Linked DNA regions of Homo sapiens. The protein of the gene in region 1 interacts with the protein of each later gene in a biochemical or structural test. Each region holds a gene or a part of one and is shown in the gene's direction. Other genes may lie near its edges.

Region 1 (11,183 bases):
ATTACAGGCGCCTGCCACCATGCCCGGCTAATTTTTTTGTATTTTTAGTAGAGACGGGGTTTCGCCGTCTTAGCCAGGCAGGTCTTGAACTCCTGACCTCGTGATCCACCCACCTCGGCCTCCCAAAGTGTTGGGATTACAGGCATGAGCCACCGCCCAGCCTATTTTCTGCTGCTTTTAAACTGTGGGACCTTAGGCAAGCCACTTAACCTCTCTTTGCCTCAGTTTTCTTACCTGCAAAATGGGAATAATGGGCTGGGCGCAGTGGTTCACGCCTGTAATCCCAGCAGTTTGAGAGGCCAAGGTGGGCAGATTACCTGAGGTCAGGAGTTCGAGACCAGCCTGGGCAACATGGTGAAACCCTGTCTATACTAAAAATACAAAAATTAGCTGGGTGTGGTGGTGCTTGCCTGTAATCCCACCTACTCGGGAGGCTGAGGCAGAAGAATTGCTTGAACCCAGGAGGTGGAGGTTGCAGTGAGCCGAGCTCATGACACTGCACTCCAGCCTGGGCGATAGAGTGAGACTTGGTCTCAAAAATAAACAAACAGAAAAACAAAACACACACACACACACACACACACACACACACACACACACACACACACTGGGAATAATAATACTAGCGGCCTCATAGTTGTCCTAAAGGTTAAATTAGTTAAAACATACAAAGCACTTAGAAGGTGCACACTTGTGTGTGCACACAGTAGGCGCTATGGAAGTGCCAACAATGCCTGTTTTCGCTGGGTGAGTGCCGTTGTGGGCCCAAGGTTCCTTTTTGCCACGTCTCCCATCCCACACTGACTCAACCTCTCTCCCTTCTTCCCTCCCCGCCCCATGAGACACACTTTCCGAATCTGGGCCAGTATGTGTGTTTGTGGAGACACCGGGAGGGAGGGGGGGCTCCAGTTGCTGTCCCTCCAGTGACTTGGCCCTTCCTCCCCCAAAACAACGGCCCCCAACCCCATCCCGGTCCCTGCGTTGCCCGCAAGGAGGCTGCTTCCTCTCAGGCAGGATGGGTGCAAGCACCAGCTCCCCGGAGGAGCATAGGGGCCCATGGGACTCCTCTTCTGTCGCCTCTTACCTGTGTGTCTTGAGTAAGTCCCCTAACTTCTCTCTCTTTTTTTTTTTTTGAGACGGAGTTTCGCTCTTGTTGCCCAGGCTGGAGTGCAGTGGCAGGACCTTGGCTCACTGCAACCTCCGCCTCCTGGGTTCAAGTGATTCTCCTGCCTCAGCCTCCCGAATAGCTGGGATTACAGGTGCCCACCACCACACCCAGCTAATTTTTTTGTATTTTTAGTGGAGACGGGGTTTCACTATGTTGGTCAGGCTGGTCTCGAACTCCTGACCTCAGGTGATCCACCCGCCTCAGCCTCCCAAAGTGCTGGGATTGCAGGCGTGAGCCACCACGCCTAGCTAGTCCCCTAACTTCTCTGTGCCTCAGTTTCCTCATCTGGAAAATGGGGTCAGAACAGTGCCCACCTCCTGGGGTTGTTGTGAAGAGTCACTGAGTGAGCTCTAGCTGGAGGGCATGAAGTCAGTAAATCAGGGCTAGCTCCTTGTTCTGCCAGTTAACTCTTCGTCCTCCGGGTTCCCACTCTGCCTTCCCTCCTCCTGGAAGTCCTCCTTGACCCCCAGGCTGGGGGTTGGGTCAGGCACTGGCCCTGGGCTCCCACAGCTCCCTGGATCCCCCTGCCCACCCTGGGCTGACCACTCAGGGGCCAGGTCTGTGTCCCCAGTGGGCTGAGAGATGTAAGGACAAAGCTGAAACTGCCTCAGCCTCCACACACACAGCAGGGACCACAGAGGGTGCTTCCCAGTGGGTGACATCACCATGACTTGCTGAGTGCTTACCGTACATCCAGCACTGTTTTTAAAAAAACAGTTTCATTGAGGATTAACGTACACGCCATAAAAACTCAACCATTATGGCCGGGCTCAGTGGCTCATGCCTGTAATCTCAGCACTTTGGGAGGCTGAGGTGGGCGGATAATGAGGTCAAGAGATGGAGACCATCCTGGCCAACATGGTGAAAACCCATCTCTACTAAAAATACAGAAATTAGCTGGGTGTGGTGGCACCTGTAATCCCAGCTACTCGGGAGGCTGAGGCAGGAGAATTGCTTGAACTCGAGAGGCAGAGGTTGCAGTGACCTGAGATCGCGCCACTGCACTCCAACCTGGGCGACAGCGAGACTCCGTCTGAAAAAAAAAAAAAAAAAAAAGCTCAACCATTTTTTTTTTTAAAGAGACAAGGTCTTGCTCTGTCTGCAGGCTGGAGTGCAATGACGCAATCATGGCTCACTGCAGCCTCCAACTGCTGGGCTCAAGTGATCCTCTTGCTTCCTCCTCCTGAGTAGCTGAGACTACAGATGCATGCCAACATGTGTGGATAATTTTTTATTTTATTTTTTTCTGTAGAGACAGGGTCTTGTCATCTTGCCCAGGCTGGTCTCAAACTCCCAGGCTCAAGCGATCCTCCTGCCTCTACCTCCCAAAGTGCTGGGATTACAGGTGTGAGCCACTCTGTCTGGCCACTTCCATCATTTTTAAATGTACAGTTCAATGCCAGGCATTATTTTAAGCTCTTTATATATATTAGCTCATTTATATTCTTTTAATCTTCACAACAGTCTTTTTTTTTTTTTGAGACAGAGTCTCACTCTGTCGCCCAGACTGGAGTGCAGTGATGCTATCTCGGCTCACTGCAACCTCTGCCTCCCAGGCTCAAGCGATTCTCGTGCCTCAGCCTTCTGAATATGTGGGACCATAGGCATGAGCCACCAACACCGGGCTAATTTTTTTGTATTTTTAGGGCTAGGCTGGTCTTGAACTCCTGGCCTCAATTGATCTGCCCACTTCAGCCTCCCAAAGTGCTGGGATTACAGGTTTGAGCCATCACACCTGGCTTCACAACAGTCCTATGATTTGCATTTTACAGAAAAGAAAACACAAGTTCAGAGAGGTTAAGCTACTTGCCTAAGGTCACACAGTGGATGGGGGCAGAGGAGGGACTCAACTCCAGGTCTTCCAGACAGCTAAGTCAGGGGGTCTCAATCGCTTCTCTCTGCTCTCCTCAGCATTGCTTGTTGGTGAATAAATGAGTGAAGAAGCAAAGGTGAGAATGAGTGGATGAAGGAGTGAATGAGGAAATGAATGGTGAAAGGAATGAATGAATGAGCATGGGAACCCATGGCTGGGATGGGTGCTTCATAAGAGCAAGAATCTTGTCTGTGTGTTCTCTGCGGTATCCCAGGCTCCCAGGACAGGGCTTGGCACACATGAGACTCTCAGTAAGTATTGCTAAATAAATGCAAAATATTTAACTTCTCAGCCTGGCCAACATGGTGAAACCCCGTCTCTACTAAAAATACAGAAATTAGCCAGGGTGGTGGTGCATGCCTGTAATCCCAGCTACTCGGGAGGCTGAGGCAGGAGAATTGCTTGAACCTGGGAGGTGGAGGTGGAGGTTGCAGTGAGCCACATTCATGCCACTGCACTCCAGCCTGGGCGACAGAGTGAGACTCTGTCTCAAAAAAAAAAAAAAAAAAAAAAAAAAAAAAAAAAAAAATTATCATCTGCTATGGCAAGAGCACAGCTATCCAGCATGAACTCTAGTTGCTGGATCGTGGGGAGATACAACAGGTCCTGGGGAGGAGCTGGGGTGATAGAGGCATGTGGCAGGCTTGGGGGTTCCATAGAAGCACAGGGGGATCTCTTAGCAAACATGTCAGTATTTTTAACAACCTATATGTACATACCGACGCACACCTGTAATAACTGCTTAATGAATGAGCAAATGAAAAAATGGAGGCCGTGAGGCTGGGCGCGGTGGCCCACGCCTGTAATCCCAACATTTTGGAGGCTGAGGCAGGAGGATCAGTTGAGCTCAGGAGTTTGAGACTAGCCCGGCAGCCCGGGTAACATAGTGAGATCCCATCTCTACTCAAAAAAAAAAAAAAAAAAAAAAATTAGCCAGGTGTGGTGATGCGCGCCTGCAGTCCCAGCTACTAGGGAGGCTGAGGTGGGAGGATCACCTGAGCTCCGGGAAGCAGAGGTTGCAGGGAGGCGTGATCCCGCCATTGTGCTCGAGCAAAGGAAAAGGGGGATGATTGCCCCCTGTAGCCAGATGGCTTGAGGGGCTGGGGCCAGAGCGAGGGGGGAAATTCTGGGCACTGGAGAGCCAGAGCAGTAGTGCCCACTGAGGGCCTTGGCTATTTTGCCCAGACAGGATTTGGACAGCCAACAACGTGAACATCTTTACAGTCCAATATGCAAGAGAATGGGATACTACTGAGAATGGCTGGAGGGTGGGGGTCTGATTTCTGCCCCTTGCGCCCCTGTCTCTCCACTCCCACTCCAGGCTACGACTTCCCGGCCGTGCTGCGCTGGTTCGCGGAGCGCGTGGACCTCATCATCCTGCTCTTTGATGCGCACAAGCTGGAGATCTCGGACGAGTTCTCAGAGGCCATCGGCGCGTTGCGGGGCCATGAGGACAAGATCCGCGTGGTGCTCAACAAGGCCGACATGGTGGAGACGCAGCAGCTGATGCGCGTCTACGGCGCGCTCATGTGGGCGCTGGGCAAGGTGGTGGGCACGCCCGAGGTGCTGCGCGTCTACATCGGCTCCTTCTGGTCCCAGCCCCTCCTCGTGCCCGACAACCGGCGCCTCTTCGAGCTGGAGGAGCAGGACCTCTTCCGCGACATCCAGGGCCTGCCCCGGCACGCAGCCTTGCGCAAGCTCAACGACCTGGTGAAGAGGGCCCGGCTGGTGCGAGTGAGTAGTCCTGAGGGCTGGGCGCGCATTCTTGGAGGAGGTTTCCTCGGTCCTCTCCTACCAGTGCTGTGAGTCCCTGACTTATCAGGGCCCAGGTTAGTTAGTTCTCTTGAAGTTGGGTCATTCTGGCACAGAGTGAAGCCGGGAGGAAGAACTGTATGGAGAGACTCATTCCTCTGCCTTTGGATTTCTGTGTCAACTCCGTGTCACCCTGGCTTCTCTGTCCTGGTATTTCTATTTCTTCTTCCTCTTCCTCCTCCTCCTCCTTCTCTTCTTCTTCTTCCTCTTTTTCTTCTTTCTTCTCTCTTTCCTCCTCCTCCTCTTCTTCTCCCTCCTCCTCCTCCTTCTTCTCTTTCTTCCTCCCCTTCCTCCTTCCTTCCTTCCTTCCTCTGTTCCTCTCTCCCTTCCTCCCTCCTCCCTTCCTCCTTCCTTACATCCTCTTTCGTTCCCTCTTCTTCCTTCTTTTTTAAGAGATGGAGTCTCGCTCTCTTGCCCTGGCTGGAATGCAATGATGCAATCACAGCTCACCACAGCCTTGAACTCCTGGGCTCAAGTGATCCTTCCTCCTTAGCCTGCCCCAAGTAGCTGAGACCACAGGCACGTGTCACCACGCCCAGCTAATTTTTTATTTTTTGTAGAGTCGAGGTCTTACTGTGTTGCCCAGGCTGGTCTTGAACTCCTGCCCTCAAGTGATCCTCCCCTTTTGGCCTCCCAAAGTGCTGGGATTGCAGGCATGAGTATGTTGAATTTTTGAACTTCCTATAAAATATAGACAGACAAATACTCATTATTCTACCCTCTTTATTTTTTGATAATTTATAAGATTGTGGTTCAAAGGTTTCCAAGTTCATTGGTTTATTCCACAAATATTTCTTTTTCTTCTTCTTTTCTTTTTTTGAGACGGAGTTTTGCTCTTATTGCCCAGGCTGGAGTGCAATGGCGTGATCTCGGCTCACCACAACCTCCGCCTCCTGAATTCAAGCGATTCTCCTGCCTCAGCCTCCCGAGTAGCTGGGATTACAGGCATTCACCACCATGCCCGGCTAATTGTGTATTTTTAGTAGAGTATTTTTAGTTGGTCAGGCTGGTCTTGAACTCTCAACCTCAGGTGATCCGCTCTCCTTGGCCTCCCAAAGTGCTGGGATTATAGGCGTGAGCCACCGCGCCAGGCCCACAAGTATTTCTGGAATGCTTTCTGTACACATGGTGCTGGGGCTGGGGATGGAGGGAACAGACAAGGTTCCAGCCCTCCTGGGGCTCATCTTTTTTTAAATTTAATTAATTAATTTATTTATAAGCTAGTCAAATTTAGCAGTGGGGGTGGGGAGTTGCATGCCAACTTTACTGACACTAATAAGTTCTGATAACCAAGGCCAGGTGCGGTGGCTCACGCCTGTAATCCCAACACTTTTGGAGGATTGCTTGAGCCCAGGCATTGAAGACCAGCTTGGGCAACATAGTGAGACACCATTTCTATTAAAAAAAAAAAAAAAAGTTCTGATAACCCACTACCATTGGACCAGCCCCGGGGCTTATCTTTTGATGGAGGGAGACAGAATAAGTAAACAGACATAAAATAACAATGAAGGCTGGGTGCGGTGGCTCACGCCTGTAATCCCAACACTTTGGGAGGCCGAGGGGGGAGCAGATCACTTGAGGTCAGGAGTTCGAGACCAGCCTGGTCAAGATGGTGAAACTGCGTCTCTACTAAAAATACAAAAATTAGCCAGGTGTGGTGGCGGGCACCTGTAATCCCAGCTACTTGGGAGGCTGAGGCATGAGAATCACTTGAACCCGGGAGGCAGAGGTTGCAGTGAGCTGAGATTGTACCACTGCACTCCAGCCTAGGCGACAGAACGAGACTCTGTCTCAAAATAAAAAAAAAAAAAAAGATGAATTTATTACATCTTAGGCGCTTCACAGCACCCGTCTCCCATGACTCTTGTTTGATTGTGGCCACAGATTGTCCCCTTCTCTCACTCCTTTCCTCTGTCCTCATCTCCCATTCCCTTCCCAGCGTCCCCTGCACTTCACGCTGGTGGCCTCAGTCCTGTGCACTTGCTGCTCCCTCTTCCTGGAAACCTCTTCTGCCTTCTTCCCCCTCCCACCTGGCCATCCACAAGGCTCACTCCCTCCTCACCCCTTTCAAGACTCTGCTCAAATGCTCCCTTCTCAGGAAGGCTGTCCATGCCCTCCTTTGAATGAATATAACTTCCCCCATATGCGTCCTTCTTTACCCTAACCCTGTTGTCCTTTCCTTTCCTTTCTTCTCCTCTCCTCTCCTTTCTCTCTTTCTCTGTTTCTCTTTCTCTCTTTCTTTCTCTTTCTCTTTCTTTTTCTTTCTTTCTTTTTTTTTTTTTTTGAGACAGGGTCTCCCTCTGTTGCCCAGGCTGGAGTGCAGTGGTGCGATATCAGCTCACTGCAACCTCCACCTCCCGGGTTCAAGCGATTCTCCTGCCTCAGCCTCCTGAGTAGCTGGGGTTACAGGCGTGTGCCACCACACCCAGCTAATTTTTTGTATTTTTAGTGGAGACGGGGTTTCACCATATTGGTCAGGCTGGTCTCGAACTCCCGACCTCAGGTGATCCGCCCGCCTTGGCCTCCCAAAGTGCTGGGATTACAGGCGTAAGCCACCACACCCAGCCAATCAGGGCTCTTTGAATTCCTTCACTGATTTATCCCCAGTGCCCGGAACAGAATTGGTGCTCTGTAAATATTTATTGAATGAATGACATTGAACAAACAGTTGCATTGAACAAAATCTCCTCTATGCCTGGCCTGGTGTTGGGTGGTGCAGGAGACACAACAGTGACCACGATGGTTCCAGTCCTGTCCTGCTGGGGCTCCCAGTCCTAAATAATGAAGGCAGTTCCAGGGCTCAGTCCTCACTGGGGCTCCTGGAGAGGAGACAGATCCATCCCCAGGCACCGATGACCCAGTGTGGTCAGAGCTGGGGCGGGGTAGCTGGGGCAGGCAGAGAGGGCTTCTTTGGAGGAGAGGGCATCTGAGGGGAAATGTCAGTGTTGAACCCAGTGTAGACAGTGTGCTAACTCAATTAGAGGCTGAGGATGTGGCTGAGATCAGAGGTGGTGTGGGCTGTGTCCGGGAATCTGTGCTTTGTCCCTAGGGCACTGGGGAGCCATGAAAAAGTTCGGAGCAGGGAAAGGAGATAATTAGACTCAAGCTACCTTTTGGAGGGTGGATTCAAGGCAGGAGAGTCTAGGAGCCTGGAGACCAGGCAAAAGGCTTGGAGGTTCCTGGATCAGGACAGGCCTTGGGGAGGGAGAGGAGAAAGGAGAGCGCGGGTTTCAGAGCGATTTTGGATGTCAGATGGAACTTTCTCAGGGGGAGGCTGCCAGGGTGGAGGCGGGGCAGGAAGCTGGGCAGGCAGGGAGGCCAAGAAGGTTCTAGGGGGTGGAGGAGCCTGAGGTGTTGGTTTAAGGAGCAGCGAGAGTGGGTGAGTCAGAGCCCCCACCCCCACCCCAGGAATCCTCCTTCGGAGGGAGCGGCCCACTGTGGACCAGGCTGCCACTCCTGGAACCTTCGGAATTCACCTTGCGCTCCTCTGCCCAGGCGGCTCTGCAGTGTCTCTCTCTCTCTTTTTCTGTCTCTATGTCAGTCTCCTTTCTACCTCTCTCTCAGTCTCTTTCTTCTCCATTTTTACTTTTTCTTTTATTCTAACTCCCTTTCCTTTTCTTTCTCGCTCTGCCTCCTCCTGTCTCTCCATCTCTCCCCCGCTCCGCCGCCGCCCTCTCTCTGTCTTCCTCCTGGTCTTGCTTAGACTCCCCCAGGTTCGTTCCCGCGGGTCCCTTGGCGGGAGCTGGAGCACAAGGCCCAGGGACAGAGGGGTGGGTCCGGGCCAGACACCTGGTGCCCCCGCCGGGCTGGGGGCGGCTCCGGAAACCCAGACAAACCCCGGAGTCAGGGACCCAGCCCCGGCCCAGCCCGCCCTCTCACCTTATCTCTTCCTGGCACCTTCCCCTGCTTCCTCTCTGGAAAAGCCATCAGCGCCCTCCCGCCTACCCTCCTTTGGTCCCTACGGAGCCGCCCTTCGGCCCTGCCCCCTGGCTCCATTGGCCCGCTCTCACAGGCCCCGCCCCCAGCCCGGCCACACCCCTGCCCTGATTGGTCCTTCAGACCATTAGGCACTCCCTCCCCCTCTTCCTGCAGGTTCATCCATGGCTCCCCAGTGCCGTTCAGGACACAGGAGCATGGGATTTAGGGTCCGCTGTGACCAAGGCTCACTGCCCCTCCTTTGCCCCGTGTCGCACCCCCACCCCTGCTCCTCACATATGAGTCCGCCACACTTGGTCGTCACCAACAATAGCCATACTGTTAACCTCCCCTCATGCTCTCCTCCAAAGATACCAGGCCTTCCTGGACTCTCTGGGAGGAGGCATTCACCCTCCTCCCAGTGCCTCAGTTTCCCATCTGTACGATGGAGGGTGTGGACGAATCCTCTGGCTCTAAGTCCTTTGGCTGAAGTGATAGCTGTTAGAAGGGGAGATTTTATGATGCTGTGATACGTAAGGCCAAGATCTTGGGAGGGTCTGATTCTATAGACGCCAAGATGCCCTGAACCTTCAGACCACATTCTCTGCAGTGGCCCAGTGACATTCATTCAGCAGTTGCCGATCGCATGTGGTACTCCTCTAGGCTCTGGGGATACAGCAGGGAACACAGATAAATTCCTTTTCTCATAGAATTACTTTTTAGTGGGGAAGCAAACATTAAACAAATCAATGGTTATGAAGAAAAATGAAGCGGAGGAAAGAGGGGCTGGCGAGGGACTATTTTAGAGCGCTCTGAAGGAGAGGAAGGGGTAAGAGGAAGGGGTGAGCCGAGTGGCGATCGGGTGGAAGAGCAGTCCATGCAGTGAGAACAGCATGTGCAAAGGCCCTGGGGCAGCCATGCACTTGATGTGTTTGAACTGAGAGCCTAACGGGGCTGGAGACAGGGTGGTGGTGGAAGGTGGAAGAGATGAAGATTTAGAACCAGTCAGGGACCACCAACGTTCTCAGCAGTCTAAATTTGTGATTCTTTAAAAAAAAAAAAATATATATATATATATATATATACATATATATATAATTTTTTTTTTTTTAGATGGAGTCTCTCTCTATCACCCAGGCTGGAGAGCAGTGGCATGATCTCGGCTCACTGCAACCTCTGCCTCCCAGGTTAAAGTGATTCTTGTGCCTCAGCTTTCCGAGTAGCTGGGACTCCAGGCAGGTGCCACCACACCTGGCTAATTTTTGTATTTTTAGTAGAGATGGGTTCTCACCATGTTGGCCAGGCTGGTCTCGAACTCCTGACCTCAGGTGATCCGCTGGCCTCGGCCTCCCGAAGTGTTGGGATTACAGGCATGAGCCACTGTGCCTGGCCTAAAAGAATTTTTTAACTAGTCTTTTTTATTGAACATTTAAGACCATCTCATGGAAAGGCATTCATACTTTATCAGACATGATTCTCCCACACCTCACCCCACCAGCTCCCAGGGCCTCTTTTCTAGAGGCAACCCCCATAAGTAGTTTCTTGTGTGTCTTTCCAGATATACTGCATTTTTTTTTTTTTTTTTTTTGAGACGGAGTCTCGCTCTGTCGCCTAGGCTGGAGTGCAGTGGCATGATCTCGGCTCACTGCAAGCTCCGCCTCCCGGGTTCACGCCATTCTCCTGCCTCAGCCTCCCGAGTAGCTGGGACTACAGGTGCCTGCCACCACGCCTGGCTAATTTTTTGTATTTTTAGTAGAGGCGGGGTTTCACTGTGTTAGCCAGGATGGTCTCGATCTCCTGACCTCATGATCCGCCTGCCTCTGCCTCCCAAAGTGCTGGGATTACAGGCGTGATATACTGTAATCACGCCCGGCCAATATACTGCATTTTGTAAAAGCATTTATTTATTATTATTTTGTTTTGAGACTGAGTCTCACTCTGTCGCCCAGGCTGGTGCAATGGCACGGTCTCAGCTCACTGCAACCTCCACCTCCCAGGTTCAAGTGATTCTCCTGCCTCAGCTTCCCATGTAGCTTGGATTATAGGTGGGCACCATCAGCCCGGCTAATTTTTGTATTTTTAGTAGAGATAGCATTTCACCATGTTGTCCAGGCTGGTCTCTAACTCCTGACCTCAGGTGATCGACCCGCTTCAGCCTCCCAAAGTGCTGGGATTACAGGCGTGAGCCACCGCGCCTGGCCTATTTATTCATTTTTTTAGAGACAAAGGCTCGCTGTGTCGCCCAGACTGGAGTGCAGTGGCGACATCATAGCTCACTTCAGTCTCAAACCTCTGGGCTCAAGTGATCCTCCCTCCTCAGCCCCGGCAATTCACTGGGACTATAGGCGCGCGCCAGTACACCCAACTAGTTTTAAAATTTTTTTTTAGAGACCAAGTCTTGCTATGTTGCCCAGG
Region 2 (11,183 bases), on another chromosome or scaffold:
ATTAATCAATATATTGAGATCAGAACTTCCCAACTGGTATGGGGCAAGGGGATATCGATCCTTTCAGCTTTCAGGGCATCTGTGTAAGGCTGAGTTGCTGGAGCCCTGGGCCAGCTAACTGTGGCCACAGGCTGACTTATCTGTTTACCCCAGCACACAGTATGTGCATTCTGTGTGCAAAGAGGGAAGCACCTAACTCAGCACACAGTAGGCACTGAATGCTTTTTTCTACTGAATTGAATTCTTCAACTGAAAAATTAATGAAATTTATTATTGTCTTAGAACAGGAGTTCTTAACCTGTGAACTGTGGGTAGAAATCAGGGTGTCCTTGAACATGGTTGAGGGAAAAAATACATTTTACTTTCATAATTCCTCATCTGAAATTTAGCATTTCCTTCAATTATGAATTTAGGCAATAAACCACCATAGTGTTAACCATGCCTGAGACTTTGTCACCTTTAGAAATCACAGATATTTTCGATATTTTCATGTCATGCTATAGTTGTTGCTGCAGATATCTGCAAATACCTTTTACACTTATAACTTCTTCAAAATAATTAGTGCAGTCATAAAAAGCACATATATTACTACTTCCCAAATTCATTTTAAGTAATACTTTCATAGGTGTATTTTTCAGTATAATTGATGTCTTTTGTAATTCTATGTATTTTATCCATGTAAAACATTATTCTGAGAAGGGACCCATTGCCAAAAGGGTTCATGAGACAAAGTGGTTAATAACCTCTAGTCTAAAGTTTTTAACATACTTTAAATTAAATAATTAAAATTACTAGTGATACAAAGTCTTGGGACCTTGATAGAAGTTCAATTAACAAGTCTTTAAATCAAAACAATTTTTCACTTGTATTGCTCTCTAAAACCAAAAATGTGTATTGCTATCAAAAAGATTTTGTTTCTTCAGCCTGGGGAATGTAGCAAGACCCCATCTCTACAAAAAATGAAAATGTTAGCTCAGCATGGTGGCATGCACCTGTAGTCCCAGCTACTTGGGAGGATGAGGTGGGAGAATCGCTGGAGCCTAGGAGCCCGAGGCTGCAGTGAGCTAGCATCATGCCACTGCTTTCCAGCCTGGGTGACAGAGCAAGACCCTGTGTCCAAAAACAAACAAACAAACAAAAAAATGGTTGTTTTTTCACAAATGCATAATGCTGGCCGTAGAGCAATAAAAACCTGGCAGTCTCTATTGAAATATGCCACCAAAAAAAAGATAATCTTTAAAAATCAGTATAGTTTTCTTACAGAAATTACCCTTTGGATGGGCATGTTACAAAGTAAACTGTTCTCATGAATTAATTCTTGTATAATTTTGGAGAGCCTGTGTCTATTAAAGTGAAATGCTTCTTTTTCATTAATTACAATTAAATTATATCTTTGGGTGTGGCAGTGCTTTACCTCCATTTTCTTACATTTGAACAAAGTGGTAAGCCAATTTAAATACAGACATGAGCATTATAAAATAAACCATTTTTTAAAGTGGATGTTTCAACTTACTGTTCAAAATTTTGAAAAAGAAATATTGTTGATTTTACCTCATTATAAATGTGTAAAGAATATAGGGAATCTCAGTAAGGCTTAAGTCACACTTCTTTACATTAGCTTTTCATTAACTTAATAATGGTAAGCATACTTTGGATTTACATATTACTCCATACAGAAGACTGTCCCATTAAAATTTTTTTTCAATTAAATCTTCCAGTACAGACAATCATGGCTTTTGAAAGGCTTTATCTTTGATGATTCTATTCATTGTATTATTCAATAAATAATTGTTTTTACATAGTCTTTCCTTTCATCATTTGCTACTTCTTACCTGATAGCTACATTGAGTTGCTACCTGCAAATTACTTCTAGCTTCACACATTTCTTCCCAATAACCCATGTGCCCTTGAATGGACTTAAAGCACCATAGGAAAACAATGCCTGTGTCTTAAATTTCATACAGATGCATAACATAACTGGCAGTAACTCCTCCTTACCAATTTAATAACATCTACAAATGAATAAGATAATTTTCTTAGAAAGACCTCTTTTTTCACCTCACACAAACAGGTGAAAAACAGTAGGTAGTTAGTTGACCATGGCAGAAGAGGTTAACCTATGGGAAAAGTCCTTTATAAAGCCTTAACCTTGCTTAAAAGAAACCTAGTTTGTTTTTAAATGTTTTTTTAGTGTAATTAGTGTACATAAAATGAATTGCTACATGAAGCAAAACACCAGCAGGAGTTTCCCCACAAGGAAGCTAATCATTTTCCTGGGTCTGTAAAAAGTGCTGAATAAAAAAAGGCATTTTCCTGTGACATCTGATCTTAACCAATATGTCAGTGTTTTTAGATAATTTGGGAATGTTTAGAATACTGCCTGTGGTGCTTTCCCTGATGGCCTGCAATTGATGCCTGTCAGTCAAGTTGTCAAGACACATGAAAAGGAAAATGACTTCAATTTTCCTAAAACATGTAAAATAACAAACCAAGCCTATACATGCACACCAACTGAGTCATTCTCTCTAGTAAATATTTTGAGGTACCTATATTATGAAGCCTAGTGCTGTGAAAATTGAAGAGGTTTTAATATCACAATTTATTTTTCATTTTCTTTCTTACTTGTTCCATAATGTTTGTTAAACTACAAGAATATGAGACAAAGATTAAATTCAAACATAGCAATGTACTTTAACAAGTAAGTACAGAAGACTGATTCATTCTCAATTGTTACATAATTTCCTAACATGTCTTTTAAGAAAAACTTTGAATTATAATCCTTAATCTAGGTTGCTAAAAAGAGTAAACATTTTACATCCCAGAGCAAGAATATATCTAGACGGTTCTTACTTTCTCTGAGAGTATATCTAAACCTTTAGCCATACTTTTAATGCTTCCTAGCAACACAATGCTGTTTTCAAGGGTTAGTTCAGGATAGTAATAATTAATTGTAAATTGAGAAACAGCTTAGATTATTCAAAACTAGAAAAACCTGATGTGCCACAGTCATTTAAAGGCTAACAAAAATAATACAATGCAGCCTCACATTCTCAACTAGGTTGTAGTACTCAAAACATTTCATTCTTTCCAAAATGAATGAATTAAATGAAGTCACTCTTTTCATTATGAAAATCAGTCTTAATTGAGCATTTAAAAATGTTTCTGTTTCTAGGCTTAAATTGCATTTATTTGTATTTTATATCAGGTAATCTAGTAGTTCTTTTGACTTATCTAGCTGTGCTTTTCTTCACAAATCACTGCAATTACATGACTGTGGAAAAGAGAGGTTGATAGAAATGATAAAGCTCAATATGGATTAGTCTAATGTTTCTTTATACTTTAGTTCCTTATCTTAAAAATCCATTCTCAGAGTTTTAAAAAATTTAACTCTCATTTTTGCTTGTTTCATTTATTGGAAAAAATATTTTAATTCTTATTTATTACACTTTTTTCTCTTGCCTCTCCCCCCACTTTTACACATGTCTGACTTTTGGAAATTTGTTCTTTTCATGTGACATAATGTCGATAACATGTACCCAAACAACAAAAATTAAAAATGTGCTCTTTTTAAAATGTGTGAATTATATGAACTGTTCAATATATCTTTTGTTTTTCCTTCCTTTGAAGGCATACGATGGATTTGCCAGCATAGGAATTTCCCGATTATTGGAACCTTCTGATATGGTATTATTAGCAATTCCTGATAAACTGACTGTTATGACTTATCTCTATCAAATAAGGGCACATTTCAGTGGCCAAGAACTAAATGTCGTTCAGATAGAGGAAAACAGCAGTAAAAGCACATATAAAGTTGGAAACTATGAAACAGATACAAACAGTTCTGTTGATCAAGAAAAATTCTATGCAGAGCTTAGTGATCTGAAGCGGGAGCCTGAACTACAACAGCCTATCAGCGGAGCAGTAGACTTCTTATCACAGGATGACTCTGTATTTGTAAATGATAGCGGGGTTGGAGAGTCAGAAAGTGAGCATCAAACTCCTGATGATCACCTTAGTCCAAGCACAGCCTCCCCTTACTGTCGCAGGACTAAAAGTGACACAGAACCCCAGAAGTCTCAGCAGAGCTCTGGAAGGACTTCAGGATCTGATGACCCTGGAATATGTTCCAATACAGATTCAACCCAAGCACAGGTTTTGTTAGGCAAAAAGAGACTATTGAAAGCTGAGACTTTAGAATTGAGTGACTTATATGTTAGTGATAAGAAGAAGGATATGTCTCCACCCTTTATTTGTGAGGAGACAGATGAACAAAAGCTTCAAACTCTAGACATCGGTAGTAACTTGGAGAAAGAAAAATTAGAGAATTCCAGATCCTTAGAATGCAGATCAGATCCAGAATCTCCTATCAAAAAAACAAGTTTATCTCCTACTTCTAAACTTGGATACTCATATAGTAGAGATCTAGACCTTGCTAAGAAAAAACATGCTTCCCTGAGGCAGACGGAGTCTGATCCAGATGCTGATAGAACCACTTTAAATCATGCAGATCATTCATCAAAAATAGTCCAGGTAAGTGAGTTAGAATGCTGAATACTATATTTAGTAATTAGTTATTCTCTGTTTTTGTTTCTTTTTGCATTCATAGATGCTACAAATGATTAAAGGTGAAGTGTAATTTCTATTATAAAAACTCCTGAGGCATGTAGTAATGTGTGCCTAAGTCCCCACTATTTGGGAGGCTGAGGAAAGAGGATTGCTTTGGCCTAGGAGTTTGAAACCAGCCTGGGTAACATAGCGAGTCCCTGTCTCAAGAAAAGAAAAACCTGAAATATACCTGCTGTATATTTAAGGTTTATGATATAATATTTTAAGCCTAAAAATCCCAATTTCAACACTGAAGGATATTGTGTAATAAGGCTATGAGAAAAAAATTGAAGGATAAAGAATGTCAACTTTTCAAATAAAAATATTACTTATAAAAACAATATTCTACTATAAAATAAATCAAAGATGTTTCAATATTCCATTTAATAAGAACATCATTCTAAAAATGTATAATGCCAAATTAAATATTTCCCATTTAAAACATTTTCCTTAGGTATTTTAGTTGGTTTATTTAGTCCCATCATTACTTGTGGTTAAAAATCCCTGCAGCATCCAAATTTCTCCTCATGAAGGGAATACTGTACGGTTTTAACCTTTCTCTTACTGATGATATTAATAATTTACTGTTTTTACTTGTATCTCTGGTACCATCAGTTATAAGATATACTAATATTTTATGTACCACAACAAAAAAGAACAACATTGTCAATAAAGTTATGATACCTGGTTTTCCTATCACTCAGAATTTTTATAGCTATTGAAAGAGCTCTTTTAGACTTATTTAGGCATAGATTATTTGATCAGATAACACTCGTGTATATATAAGGAGGAAATTTTAGGCAAAATAAATTGATTAAGGTATTCCTAAAAGTTTTTCACATTTAGAATCCAGCTCTTCTGAATCACTTTTTGATTTAGAGTTGTTGGTATTCCTTTTTTTTTTTTCTGCACAGTTATCCTCTGTGCCATCAAAAGCATTGTTACAGTAAATGGTTCTCAAAGCCAGATTTGGGGGCCTCTGAAGTTCTCCAAGTCCCTTTCAGAGAGCCCCCAAAGTTAAAGCTATTTTCATAATAATACTAGGGCATTGTTTGCCTTTATCACTCTCATTCTCTCACAAGAGTATGATGGCATTTTCTGGAAGTTACATGATTTGTGATATCTCAACAGATTGAATACAAAAGTAGATATAGGAATTCAGCTGCTTTCTTTTATATTGAGATTTACAAAATATGTAAAATACTGCCACCCTTCTCAATTTTTGTTTTTAAAGTAATTATTTTCTATTAAAATGTGTTAACATCTAATGAGTTCATTGTGGCTACTTCTAAATGAAAAAAATATTTTAAAAATATATCAGTTTTAATATCAAAAATGACAAATATCAGTAGATACAATCTGTATAAGCAAGAGTTTTTTGGGATCCTCAATAATTTTTAAGCATATATGGGGATTTCGAGACCAAAAAATTGGGAAATCTCTGAGTTGTTTTTTCTTTTTTTTTGAAACAGAGTTTCACTCTTGTTGCCCAGGCTGGAGTGCAATGGTGCCATCTTGGCTTACCACAACCTGTGCCTCCCAGGTTCAAGCAATTCTTCTGCCTCAGCCTCCCGAGAAGCTGGGATCACGGGCATGTGCCACCACACCCGGCTAATTTTGTATTTTTAGTAGAGACGGTGTTTCTCCATGTTGGTCAGGCTGGTCTCAAACTCCTGACCTCAGGTGATCCACCCGCCTTGGCCTCCCAAAGTGCTGAGATTACAGGTGTGAGCCACCGCGCCCGGCCCGAACCTCTGAATTTATAGCATTTCTCCACAACTGTCTCTGGGATTTTCTTCCAAGTCAGTATACTGATTGATAATGGCACTTTCTTGGCTTTACCAGAAGGTTTCAACAGAAGATTTTTAGACAGTAATCTGGAGTTATGTTTCTTTCTCAAATAGTCCTCAAGTGGTGTTGACTGAAACATCAAGGAATTGCCATCATGCCAACTGAAATATCAAACAATATACGTATAGGTAGACAACCATGTCTTAACTGCCACCTGGATGACAGAGAGTGTAAGATTCTGCCATTTATAAGTTTTCAGAGGTGTCAAGAAAGAATTTATATCTTAGAATTAAAGAAATATAATAGCTGCCAAAGCAAGCCCCTGTTCTCCTAATCATAAACCTCAAATCAAAAGTCCTAAGTAGCTAAATCTCTCTGAAAGCTTTCAGGACAGCATATGTCCACACATAGTAGATAATCAATAAACATCTAGTGATTGACAATTTCAAGAACTTGATGACCCTAAATTGTCATATTCAATACAAATTTTTCTTTTTTTTTTTTTTGGGGGGGGGGGGTGGAGTCTTGCCCTGTCACCCAGGCTAGAGTGCAGTGGCGTGATCTCACCTCACTGCAACCTTCTCCTCCCGGGTTCAAGTGATTCTCCTGCCTCAGCCTCCCGAGTAGCTGAGACTACAGGTGTGTACCACCATGCCCAGTTAATTTTTGTATTTTTAGTAGAGATGGGGTTTCACCACATTGGCCAGGCTGGTCTCGAACTCCTGACCTCAGGTGATCCTCCTGCCTCAGTCTCCCAAAGTACTGGGATTACAGGTGTGAGCCACCGCGCCTGGCCAGATTTTTCTTGAAAACCAGATTTTTAAGGCAAATATGTTTAGTTAAAACTAGGAATTGATTGATGTTTAAAATTTTAAAATACCCTGGACTGGGAATCAGTAAGCCTGGAATCTCGTTTTGACTCTCCCAATAAATTAGTAGTGTGACATGTTAACTAGCCATTTAGCCTCTCTCGATCTTATTTTCCATGTATGTTAAATGAAGCAATCTTTAAGAACCCCTTTAGCTGTGAAACTATCATTCTGTGATTCTATTCAGATGATTAAAGTGTACTGGATGATAGAAGCAATGTCTATTCATAGCTCCATGTATGTTTTCTCTTTGGCCATTGGCTTATTCAGAATTTTTCTTGGGGTAAGTTTAAAGGTTTTTATTGACACTGGATTGGCAAAAGTAATGTCTAACAATAAACACTGTAATATAGGTGCTGACATTTGGTAGGCTTTTAAAATTGTATATAGCAGCTGAATTTTGGACAATTAAAAATCTGTTTCTCTTTTGTACAAAGTATTTCAATTCTCAGATACACATCTTTTTACATTTTAACTTCTCCGAAATCAATATATTATTTATAATAGATAGTGTATTAGAGTTTAATTGACAGCGTTTGTTCTTTCTTAGTAGTTCATAAAATAATAGTAACTCTTACAATTAAGACCATTGGATTAGAGGAAATTTAGTAACTTTAATATGGCTTTATATACTTAACAAAGTCATAATGTTGTCCATTTGGGTGCCTAATACATGTGATGACAGTTATATATCTTACACCTATCTCTTAGACTTTACAACTCATAAGGTAAGTAGTCAAATTCTATATTATATGTGGGAAATCTGAGGTTTGCAGAGTTACTTAAGATTACATGATAAATGTTAAAGTTTGAATTCAAAAGCAACCTTGTCTTCAAAGTCTGTGCTTCTCCACTTGATGCTTATAACATCTTTATTTACCATAATAGCATTAAAAAATAATCGTAGCCCAAATATAATGTGGTCAACATTACTGAAGGGCAATTTAACAATGTGAATCAAATTCCTTAAAAATCTTTATCTCATTACATCCTACTTTCAGGAATTTTTCCTAAGGAAATAATTAGAATTGTATAATATGGCCGGGTACCATGGCTCACTCCTGTAATCCCAGCACTTTGGGAGGCCAAGGCGGGTGGATCACCTGAGGTCGGGAGTTTGAGACCAGCCTGACCAACATGGAGAAACCCTGTCTCTACTAAAAATATGAAATTAGCCAGGGTGGTGGCACATGCCTGTAATCCCAGCTACTCGGGAGGCTGAGGCAGGAGAATTGCTTGAACCCGGGAGGCGGAGGTTGCGGTGAGCCGAGCTGGCGCCATTGTACTCCGGCCTGGGCAACAAGAGCGAAAGTCCGTCTCAAAAAAAAAAAAAAAAAAAAAAAAGGTATAATAAAAATTTACTTCTAAAGATATTCATAAAAGCATTATTTATGATAGTAAAAAATTGTGTGCAACCTAAATGTTCAGCAAAATAAGACAAGTTAACTAACGTATGATGCATCTATACAATATAATGTTAGGTAGCCAATTAAAAATCAAGTTTTAGGCTGGGCATGGTGGCTCACCTGTAATCCCAGTACTTTGGGAGGCTGAGGTAAGAGGATCGCTTGGGCCTGAGAGGTCAAGGCTGCAGTGAGCTGTGATCATGCCATTGGACTCCAGCCTCGGTGACAGAGTGAGACCCTGTCTCAAAAAAGTAAAATAATAAAATAAAATAATAAAAAAATTATGTTTAAAAAACATTTAAGACCATGAGAAAATGCTCAAAATAGAATAAGTGAAAAAAAAAGCATGATTCTACAGTTATTATCTCTGGGTACCAGGACTACTACTAATGTTTATTTTTTTCTTTTTAACTTGTATTTATTTTCTGAAATCTCTGTAGTGAATTGCATTTCTAGCCAGGAAAATTAAAAAAAAACTGTGTTTATGTGCTGTTAAACACAATTGGTGATTTTATAATCTTTTGGTGATTTGATTTTGGTCTTAAGACCAAAACATCTTTTCACTGTCCATGTAGCTGGTTGGAATTACCAAAAGACTATAAAATCACAGAATTTAGAGCTAGTGAGATCTTAAAGATGATCCCTCATTTCAAAGATTAGGAAATCAAGGGATTAAAACAAGTAGTTAATGTTTATTCAGTGCTTGCCATGTGCCAGTGCTCAGTACATTATGCTATTATTTAATCTTTGCCCTGTCCTTCTGAGAGTTGGTCTATTTCTATCCTTATTTTATAAATGAGGAAACTGAGGCTTAGAGAAATTAACTTGCCCATAATTAAGTGGTGGAACTGATATTTGAACCCAGGTCTGTCTGACTCCACATCATGTAATGGAATGCAGTAAGTTTTTAACTGACCTGCTCAATGTTACATTGCTTATTATTAGTGGGAGAGGGATTAACAGCCTGATGTCTTGACTGAAAATTCAGTGTTCATTTAATTAATTTTGTCTGTTTTTGAGACACTGTTGATATTGTAACTAAATTCTATTGTGTCCTATTCAACATGAACTTAGACTTATCGTTATCACTTATACATTTTATTTGTATCTATTAAGTTAAGAATTTTTGTTTAATCCTCTTAAAAATCTTTGGGTGATGAAAATGTCCTGGAATTAGGTAGTGGTGATAGTTCATAACCTTATGAAATACTAAAAACCACTGAATTGTACACTTTAAGAAAAATCTTTTCTTCTTTAAGTTTATAGAAAAAAAGGCTTTAAAAAATAGTTGTAGTAAAATATAAAGACCACAAAGAAGCCCAAAAATGCTGAACTAATCTTAAAAAAGATGGTTTCACATAATATGAAATAAAGTAATAGCTACACTTATTTTCTTTTCCTTGACAGTGATACTTATGATTGAACCAAAACTATGCAATGAAAGGGAAGTAAAAGAAATTAAGTATCTGATAATAGTAATAGACATCTAAAGCCAGAAGTTGGTTACTTAGTAGAAAAAAAAGGAATTTGGACTATAAGGAGTATGAATATTTGTGCTTTTGGTTTAAGAACTGATCTCTGTTGATGGACAGTATCTGTTGTTCTCCAAAATTACATTGTAAAATTACAGATTAATCCAGGAGAATACTTTTTCAATTCTAATATTTTCAATTGTTTTGTTATAAGGATAGTGAGCAATGGGGAAGACTAGTTTTACTTTTTTTTAATGAAATATAATAGCTTTGAATTTTCTATAAACATTCTCAAGGATTTAAAGGATTATCGCCACAGATATTTAATATTTATCAACATTCAAATTTGGAAGACATGTTGTTATCAATTCTATAAGACTAAAAATAAAACTCTGAACTTTAAAAAATGTCTTTGTCAGATTATACTGTGTTTATGAGCAAATACTGAGAATATATAGAATATATATTAGCCTCATACCTAATGAGAATATGTTCTAATAAAATTATAATTAAATTTAATCCAGTTTTAGACAGTAAAGATGTATTTCCCTCATGTCAAGATTTATATATTTGTTCCACAGTTTCTAGTCAACATTAATATTCTCTATAGGTAATCTCATGAAGCTACAATCTTATTCATAATCTCTATTATTTCAGCAGATTGTCTAACCTTTCATTAGTTTACAAATGTAGATTACCCGTTTTTTTTTTGGCTTCTAATTCTGTATCTTTGCTTTTAAGCATCGATTGTTATCTAGACAAGAAGAACTTAAGGAAAGAGCAAGAGTTCTGCTTGAGCAAGCAAGAAGAGATGCAGCCTTAAAGGCGGGGAATAAGCACAATACCAACACAGCCACCCCATTCTGCAACAGGCAGCTAAGTGATGTGAGGAGCATTGGTTAAAAAAGACCATAAGTTGTTCATTGTAATCATGGGGAGGAGGGAAGTAATTTGCTTGTATTTCTGCTATGTTATTTTTCTACGGACTGTACATTGTGAATACTTGGTGCACTTACTGAACTGATAAAGATAAATTCATA
Region 3 (9,325 bases), about 37 Mb from region 1:
GGCACTTCAGCCTGGGCGAAGAAGCGAGACTCTGTCTCAAAGAAAGAAAAAAAAAAAAAAAAAAAGAAGAGAGTCAACATGGAGTCTCCAAGAACTCTCCCCTTCTTCTTCCCACAGGTCAAGCCACTGATCTGGATTGAGTCTGTCATTGAGAAGTTCTCCCACAGCCGCGTGGAGATCATGGTCAAGGTGGGCCTTGGGGGAATGCTTATTAACAATGCATGATCTCGGGTGGGTGCGGTGGCTCACACCTGTAATCCCAGCACTTTGGGAGGCCGGGGTGGTTAGATCACTTAAGCCCAGGACTTTGAGACCAGCCTGGGCAACAGGGCGAAACCCTGTTTCTACAAAAAATACAAAAATTAGCCTGGTAAAGTGGTGAGTGCCTGTAGTGCCAGTTAGTTGGGAGGCTGAGGTGGGAGGATTGCTTGAGTCCAGGAGGAGGAGGTTGTAGTGAGACAAGGACTCTAGCCTGGATGACAGAGCTAGACCCCATCTCCAAAAAGAAAAAAGAAAAAAAAAATCTGTTATCAAATAAAATAATAACTCTCCTGTGATGGACTGAAGGGTTTTTTTGTTTGTTTGTTCGTTTGTTTTTTGAGAAAGAGTCTCCCTCTGTCACTCGGGCTGGAGTGCAGTGGTGTGATCTCAGCTCACCGCAACCTCTGCCTCCTGGGTTCATGCCATTCTCCTACCTCAGCCTCCCGAGCAGCTGGGATTACAGGCTCCTGCCGCCACGCCTGCCTCCATCTCCCCAAGTGCTGGGATTACAGGTGTGGCCCACCACCCCCGGCTTTTTTCAACAAGCCTTTCATATGCCCTCTCAGCCCAGGCCTCCACAATCCTAAGGTGGGGACCCTTATCCTGTCCATTTTACAGATGAGGAAACTGAGGCACACAGAAGTTAAGGCATTTGCCTGCAGATACACAGCCAACAACTGTTAGAACTCAGGCCCACACCCATGAGGCTCGAGAAGCCCTGTTCTTGGTGCCTTCCATGTGGACAGCACCATACACCTTTGCCTGATTCAAAATGACCCCTTCAGGCTGGGTGCAGTGGTTCATACCTGTAATCCCAGCATGTTGGGAGGCGGAGGCAGTAGGATCACCTGAGGTCAGGCGTTCCAGACCAGCCTGACCAACATGGAGAAACGCTGTCTCTACTAAAAATACAAAATTAGCAGGGCGTGGTGGCACATGCCTGTAATCCCACCTACTTGGGAGGCTGAGGCAGGAGAATTGCTTGAACCCAGGAGGCGGAGGTTGCCGTGAGCGGAGATTGTGCCACTGCACTCCAGCCTGGGTGACAGAGAGAGACTCCGTCTAAAAAAAAAAAAAAAAAAAAAGGCCAAGCATGGTGGCTCACGCCTGTAATCCCAGCACTTTGAGAGGCCGGGGTGGGCGGATCACGAGGTCAGGAGATCGAGAACATCCTGGCTAACATGCTGAAACCCCGTCTCTACTAAGAATACAAAAAAAATTAGCTGGGCGTGCTGGCGGGTGCCTGTAGTCCCAGCTGCTCAGGAGGCTGAGGTAGGAGAATGGCGTGAACCTGGGAGGCGGAGCTTACAGCCAGCCGAGATCGCGCCACTGCACTCCAGCCTGGGCGACAGAGTGAGACTCCGTCTCAAAAAAAAAAAAAAAAAAAAAAAAAAAAGGGCTTGGTAAATATTTGAAGGATGAGCAAGCGAATTCTTCGTGCCCCATGCTCGCTCCCCTGACAGGCCAAGGGGCAGTTTAAGAAACAGTCAGTGGCCAACGGTGTGGAGATATCTGTGCCTGTACCCAGCGATGCCGACTCCCCCAGATTCAAGACCAGTGTGGGCAGCGCCAAGTATGTGCCGGAGAGAAACGTCGTGATTTGGAGTATTAAGTCTTTCCCGGTAAGTACCAGGGACTGGCGGGGGATCTGGGGGTGGAGGGGACTGGAGTAGTGTGGGGGCTGCCCAGGAGCCATGAGAACAAGGCAGAGAACAAATCAGAGACCCAGTCAGGTGTGATGGCTCATGACTGGAATGCCAGTACTTTGAGAGGCTGACACGGGCAGATCGCTTGAACCCAGGAGCTGGAGACCAGCCTGGGGAACACAGTGAGACCCTGCCTCTATAAAAATATTAAGAGGAGCTGGGCGCAGTGGCTCACGCCTGAAATCCCAGCCTGGCTAACATAGAGACGGCTAACATCCGTCTCTAGTAAAAGTACAAAAATTAGCTGGGTGTGGTGGCGCATGCCTGTAATCCCAGCCACTCGGGACACTGAGGCAGGAGAATTGCTTGAACCCGGGAGGCAGAGGTTGCAGTGAGCTGAGATTGTGCCACTGCACACTCCAGCCTGGGCAACAGAACGAGACTCCGTCTCAAAAAAAAAAAAAAAAGATTAAAAGGCCAGACATGGTGGCTCATACCTGTAATCCCAGCACTTTGGGAGGCTGAAGCGGGCAGATCACCTGAGGTCAGAAGTTCAAGACCAGCCTGGCCAACATGGTGAAAACCCGTCTCTACTAAAAATACAAAAATTAGGGCAGGGCACGGTGGCTCACGCCTGTAATCCCAGCACTTTGGGAGGCCGAGGTGGGCGGATCACGAGGTCAGGAGATCGAGACCATCCTGGCTAACATGGTGAAACCCCATCTCTACTAAAAATACAAAAAATTAGCCGGGCGTGGTTGCAGGCGCCTGTAGTCCCAGCTATTTGGGAGGCTGAGGCAGGAGAATGGCCTGAACTCGGGAGGTGGAGCTTGCAGTGAGCAGAGATCACGCCACTGCACTCCAGCCTGGGTGACAGAGCGAGACTCCATTTCAAAAAAAAAAAAAAAAAAAAAATTAGCCGGGCATGGGGGTGTGCGCCTGTAGTACCAGCTACTCAGGAGGCTGAGGCAGGAGAATCACTTGAACCCGGGAGGCGGAGGTTGCAGTGAGTTGAGATCACGCCACCGCACTCCAGCCTGGGTGACAGAGTGAAACTCTGTCTCAAGAAAAAAAAAAAAACTTAGAAAAAAGAAATACAAGGCCAGGCGCAGTGGCTCACGCCTGTAATTCCCAGCACTTTGGGAGGCTGAGGCGGGCAGATTACGAGGTCAGGAGATCGAGACCATCCTGGCTAACACTGTGAAACCCCGTCTCTACTAAAAATACAAAAAAAAAAAAAATTAGCTGGGCGTGGTGGCGGGCGCCTGTAGTCCCAGCTACCGGGAGGCTGAGGCAGGAGAATGGCGTGAACCTGGGAGGCGGAGCTTGCAGTGAGCCAAGACCGCACCACTACACTCCAGCCTGGGCGACAGAGTAAGACTCCATCTCAAAAAAAAAAAAAAAGAAAAAAAAAGAAAAAAAAAGAAAAAAGAAATACAAGTAAATCAGAGAGGTACGTATGTATGCAAGTGATCAAGCTTGAAACCAGGCCAGTCTATTTCACAGACGTGTAAACTTCCATGACGGGAAGTGTGTGGATTTAAATATCCCCCTGCCAATGTCTTGAGGAAACCAGCCCTGGGTTCACCTTCCTCACTATTGCTTTGCTGAGCTGGGTGGGTTTGGGAAACCCATTTCCACTTAAGGAGGCTCAGTTTGCCTGTCTGTGAAATGGGCAGGATGAGGTGACCCACATCCCTTGGCTACTAGAGGTTTTGGTTTGTCCCCATGATCTTGGGAGAGGTGGATCATCAGTGCCTGTAAAACAGGACATGGTAGTTAAAAAAAGAAAAAAACCCTGATTGGGTTTTGCAGTCAGAATCTTCCCTGGTGAGTCTCTGTCACCCAGGTTGGGGTGCAGTGGTGAGATCATGGCTCACTGCAGCCTCAAACTCCCAGACTCAAGGGATCTTCCTGCCTCAGCCTCCCAAGTAGCTGAAACTGCAGGCATGTTCCACCGCACCCAGCTAATTTTTAAACTTTTTGTAGACATGGTATCTCAATATGTTGCCCAGGCTAAGGAGCCTTTATTTTCCTGTCTGTGAAATGGGCTGTGAGCAGATCTGACTCCAGGGGTTGCTGAAAGGAAGGTCTCGGGAGGGTAGGCGGACCCTCGTGTACCTGATGCCCCCATGTTCCCTCAGGGGGGCAAGGAGTACTTGATGCGAGCCCACTTTGGCCTCCCCAGTGTGGAAAAGGAAGAGGTGGAGGGCCGGCCCCCCATCGGGGTCAAGTTTGAGATCCCCTACTTCACCGTCTCTGGGATCCAGGTGAGAGAAGCAGGCAGGGAGGATCCTCCCCTTGACTTCGGTGGGTTCCCCTCTCTCCTGTCCCTTGGCTCGAGTCACCTCAGTCCCCTGGCCTGTGTCAACACTCCTCTGAAGGCTGCCTGGTCTTTCCCAGAGCAATGTTACCTTTATCTGCCCACAGCCTGTGCTCCCTCTCCCCCGGCCTGTGCCACCTTGTTCCCCACCGGCTTGTTCACTTCTGTCCCTTCTCCACCTCCAAAGCCATTCACCATTCCGTTGCCTGTGCCACCTCATCCCCCTAAGACCATGTGATATCCCCTCATCGATCCCAGCCTGTGCCACATAGCCGCTTGGCCTAAGCCGTCTCTTTCTCCCTGGCCCTGGCCTCCTCCCTCCTGCAATCCTGGACCACCTCTTTTCATTCCCTTCCAGGTCCGATACATGAAGATCATTGAGAAAAGTGGTTACCAGGCCCTGCCCTGGGTTCGCTACATCACCCAGAGTGGCGGTAAGGCAGCCCAGCTCCTGGGGACAATGGGGTGAGGGAAAGGCAGTGGGTAGGGACTCGAGGCTTTCACCACATTCTGGCTCAGAAAACCAACAAGGGTCAGGTGTGATGGTTCAGGTGTGTAATCCTAGCACTTTGGGAGGCCAAGGCGGGTGGATCTCTTGAGGCCGGGAGTTCGAGACCAACCTGGCCAACATGGTGAAACCCTGTTTCTACTAAAAATACAAAAATTAGCCGGGTGTGGTGGTGTATGCCTATAATCCAAGCTACTCAGGAAGCTGAGGCAGAATTGCTTGAACCCGGGAGGTGGAGGTTGCAGTGAGCTGAGATCGTGCCACTGCACTCCTGCCTGGTCGACAGAAACCCTGTCTCAAAAAATGAAAAAGAAAGCAAACTGCCCCTTCTTGTCATGGCACCCTGGGCCTTGGTTTGCACGTCTTTAAAATGGGGGCAGTTGGCTGGGTGTGGTGGCTCACATCTGTAATTCCAGCACTTTGGGAGGCTGAGGTGGGAGGACCGCTTGAGCTCAGGAGTTCCAGACCAGCCTTGGCAACACAGCAAAACCCCTTCACTACAAAAAATATAAAAATTAGCCAGGTGTGATGTGCACACCTGTAGTCCCAGCAACTCAGGAGGCTGAGGTGGGAGGATCGCCTGAGCCCAGGAGGTCGAGGCTGTAGTGAGCTGTGATTGCACCACTGCACTCCATCCTGGGCAAGAGTGAGACCCTGGCTCAAAAAAAAAAAAAAAAAAAAAGGAAAAAAAAGCAGGGACAGTTGTCAGCGTCAGTTCTAGGGTGGTCGCGAGTTTGGAGAAGGGGCTGAACATATAGCACCTCCATCTGCTGCCTGGAAACTGCCTTGTTTCTATGGTTACAGTACCTGTGTTTAGCCCCATTCTTAGCCTTGTTGATCATGAGTGCTGGGATAGGGGATGAATTGAGGGGCTGTGGGAGGCTGTCCCTCTTCCTTCACCCCTCCCCATTTCTTTTCTTTTTTGAGATGGAATCTCACTCTGTCGCCCAGGCTGGAGTGCAGTGGCGCAATCTCAGCTCACTGCAACCTCCACCTCCTGGGTTCAAGCAATTCTTCTGCCTCAGCCTCCCTAGTAGCTGGGATTACAGGTGTGCACCATCATACCCAGCTAATTTTTGTATTTTTAATAGACATGGGGTTTCACCATGTTGGCCAGGCTGGTCTCGAACCCCTGACCTCAAGTGATCCACCTGCCTCGACCTCCCAAAGTGCTGGGATTATAAGCGTGAGTCACCGTGCCCGGCCCCCCTCTCCCCATTTCTGAGATGGCCCCTCCTCATTCTTTCTCTGCAGATTACCAACTTCGTACCAGCTAGAAGGGAGAAGAGATGGGGGCTTGAACACGGGGCTTCCTTACAGCCCCGGATGCAGATTTTAGAGGGAGGGCAGGTGCGGGCTGTGTGTGTCTGTGTGAGGGCAGGTCCTGGACTTGGCAGTTTCTTGCTCCCAGCACCCGCCCCTTCCTCACCTCTTCCTTATTCCATAGGCTGGGAGAGAAACTCTCTCTGCTTCCCTCGCCCTTGGAGCTTTCCCCATCCCCCTGATTTTATATGAAGAAATAGAAGAGGGGCTTGAAGTCCTCCTCGCGAGTGCCTTCTTGCAATTACCTGCCTTAGCGGGTGTTGCGGGTCCCTCCTTCACAGCCGCTGAGCCCAGAGGTCCCGCTGGCCCCTCCTCTGAATTTTAGGATGTCATTAAAAAGATGAATCTAGCCGCTGCCTATGTGCTTGTTTGGGGACATTACTGAAGTGCTGCAATGGGAGTGGGTAACACGTGTCAGTCCATTCCTCAGTCCCGGGTCATGGCCCTGGTCCTCTGCTGTTGCCTTTGCTTCCCACCTCCACGGTCTGTTCCCCCAGTAGCCGCTAGAGGGCGCGTGTTAGCATCGCTTCTTTTTTCCTTTTTTCTTTTTTCTTTTTTTTTTTTTGAGACAGTCTCACTGTAGCCCAGGCTGGAGTGCAGTGTCGCGATCTCGGCTCACTGCAACCTCCGCCTCCCAGGTTCAGGCAATTCTCCTGCCTCAGCCTCCCGAGTAGCTGGGATTATAGTCGTAGTCGCCCACCATCACGCCTGGCTTTTTTTGTCTGTTTGTTTGTTTGTTTTGTTTGAGACGGAGTCTCAGTCTGTCGCCAAGGCTGGAGTAGTGCAGTGGTGCGATCTCGGCTCACTGCAGCCTCCGCCTCCCGGGTTCAAGCGATTCTTCTGCCTCAGCCTCCCGAGTAGCTGGGATTACAGGCGCCCATCACCACACCTAGCTAATTTTTGTATTTTTAGTAGAGACCGGTTTCACCATGTTGGCCAGGCTGGTCTCGAACTCCTGACCTCATGATCTGCCCGCCTCGGCTTCCCAAAGTGCTGGGATTACAGGCATGAGCCACTGCGCCTGGCTTAATTTTTGTTTTTGTTTTTGTTTTTTTGAGACGGAGTCTCGCTCTGTCGCCCAGGCTGGAGTGCAGTGGCGCGATTTCGGCTCACTGCAACCTCCACCTCCCAGGTTCAAGCGATTCTCCTGCCTCAGCCTGCTGAGTAGCTGGGATTACAGGCGTGCGCCACCATGCCCCACTAATTATTGTTATTTTTAGTAGAGACGGGGTTTCACCATGTTGGTCAGGCTGGTCTCAAACTCCTGACCTCATTATCCGCCCGCCTTGGCCTCCCAAAGTGCTAGGATTACCGGCGTGAGCCACCGCGCCTGGCTTAATTTTTTTTTTTTTTTGAGACAAGAGTCTTGCTCTGTCGCCCAGGCTGGAGTGCAGTGGCGTGATCTCGGCTCACTGCAAGCTCCGCCTCCCGGGTTCATACCATTCTCCTGCCTCAGCCTCCCAAGTAGCTGGGACTACAGGCGCCCGCCACCACGCCTGGCTAATTTTTTGTATTTTTAGTAGAGACGGTGTTTCACCGTATTAGCCAGGATGGTCTCAATCTCCTGACCTCGTGATCCGCCCGCCACGGCCTCCCAAAATGCTGGGATTACAGGCGTGAGCCACTGCGCCCGGCCTGTATTTTTTAATAGAGATGGGATTTCACCATGTTGGCTAGTCTGGTCTCGAACTCCCCACCTCAGGTGATCCACCCGCCTCAGCTTCCCAAAATGTTGGAATTACAGGTGTGAGCCACTTCGCTCGGCATTCCTATCTTATTAAAGCCATGGCCTGGTCGGGCGTGGGCGACAGAGCAAGACTCTGTCTCAAAAAAAAAAAAAAAAAAAAAAAAAGGCCGGGCACGGTGGCGGGCGCCTGTAGTCCCAGCTACTCGGGAGGCTGAGGCAGGAGAATGGCGTGAACCCGGGAGGCGGGGCTTGCAGTGAGCCGCGATAGCGCCACTGCACTCTGGCCTGGGCGAGTGAGACTCCGTCTCAAAAAAAAAATTAAAAAAAAATTAAAATAAATAAATAAATAAAAAAGCCATGGCTTGATTTGCACAATTGCCATCCTGATACCCCACCTACCTGCTCTCCCCTGCTCTGTACCACACCAGGCACGCTCTCACCTCTGGGCCTTAGCATCTGCTGTGCCTCCCAGCTGGTGTGCTTTTCCCCATATAACCACAAGTCTCCCTCCCTCACCTTTAGGTCTCAAATCAAATGTCACCTCTTCAGGGAGGCCCTCCCTGCCTTTGCGTTTCTTTTTCTTTTCTTTTCTTTTCTTTTTTTTTTTTTTTTGAGACAGAGTCTCACTCTGTTGCCCAGGCTGGAGTACAATGGCGCGATCTCGGCTCCTGCGACCTCCGCCTCCTGGGTTCAAGCGATTCTCCTGTCTCAGCCTCCTGAGTAGCTGGGATTACAGGTGCGTGCCACCAGGCGCAGCTAATTTTTTTTTTTTTTTTTTTTTTTTTGAGACGGAGTCTCGCTGTCGCCCAGGCTGGAGTGCAGTGGCGCAATCTCGGCTCACTGCAGGCTCCGCCCCCTGGGGTTCACGCCATTCTCCTGCCTCAGCCTCCCGAGTAGCTGGGACTACAGGCGCCCGCCACCTCGCCCGGCTAATTTTTTATATTTTTGGTAGAGACGGGGTTTCACCATGTTGGTCAGGCTGGTCTTGAACTCCTGACCTCGTGATCCGCCCACCTCAGCCTCCCAGAGTGCTGGGATTACAGGTGTGAGCCACCGCGCCCGGCTTTTTGCCTTTCCGTTTCAATGGCTCATCTGGTCAGTCCTCTACCACTCTAAAAAGATTTAACTATTGGCGGAGAGCAGGAGCTCACGCCTGTAATCCCAGCACTTTTGGAGGCCAAGGCAGAAGGATCCGTTGAGCCCAGGAATTCGGGACCAGCCTGGGCAACAAAGCAAGAACCCCAACATAAAAAAAAAAATCTGTATTTAAAAGCCAAACACAAATAACAAACAAAAAACACCAGCCTGGGCAACATAGTGAAACCTCATATCTACTAAAAACACAAATTAGCCGGGCGTGGTGGTGCGCCCTGTAGTCCCAGCTACTCGGGAGGCTGAGGCAGGAGGATCACTTGAGCCCGGGAAGTCGAGGCTGCAGTGAGCTGTGATCGCGCCACTGCACGCCGGCCCGGGTGACAGGAGTGAGACCCTGACTCAAAAATAAATACATATATAAATAAAAATTAACTATTGTCTCTGGCCCCAGACCATAGGTGTCCCTGCAGCAGGGGCCGACT

The links.
Region 2: the proteins of EHD2 (region 1) and EHBP1 form a complex in vitro, tested with the Homo sapiens proteins (one study listed by BioGRID).
Region 3: the proteins of EHD2 (region 1) and AP1M2 form a complex in vitro, tested with the Homo sapiens proteins (one study listed by BioGRID).

Annotation. Positions count from the first base shown.
Region 1 is NC_000019.10:47,721,450-47,732,632, forward strand, and holds part of EHD2 (EH domain-containing protein 2), read left to right. Parts: intron 1-4,362; coding exon 4,363-4,775; intron 4,776-7,474; exon of another isoform or gene 7,475-7,672; intron 7,673-7,963; exon of another isoform or gene 7,964-8,062; intron 8,063-11,183. UniProt on the Homo sapiens protein: ATP- and membrane-binding protein that controls membrane reorganization/tubulation upon ATP hydrolysis. Plays a role in membrane trafficking between the plasma membrane and endosomes. Important for the internalization of GLUT4.
Region 2 is NC_000002.12:62,944,633-62,955,815, forward strand, and holds part of EHBP1 (EH domain-binding protein 1), read left to right. Parts: intron 1-3,627; coding exon 3,628-4,530; intron 4,531-10,884; coding exon 10,885-11,028; intron 11,029-11,183. UniProt on the Homo sapiens protein: May play a role in actin reorganization. Links clathrin-mediated endocytosis to the actin cytoskeleton. May act as Rab effector protein and play a role in vesicle trafficking.
Region 3 is NC_000019.10:10,569,756-10,579,080, reverse strand, and holds the end of AP1M2 (AP-1 complex subunit mu-2), read left to right. Parts: intron 1-117; coding exon 118-189; intron 190-1,724; coding exon 1,725-1,883; intron 1,884-4,051; coding exon 4,052-4,177; intron 4,178-4,588; coding exon 4,589-4,664; intron 4,665-5,992; coding exon 5,993-6,015; 3' UTR 6,016-6,410; downstream 6,411-9,325. UniProt on the Homo sapiens protein: Subunit of clathrin-associated adaptor protein complex 1 that plays a role in protein sorting in the trans-Golgi network (TGN) and endosomes.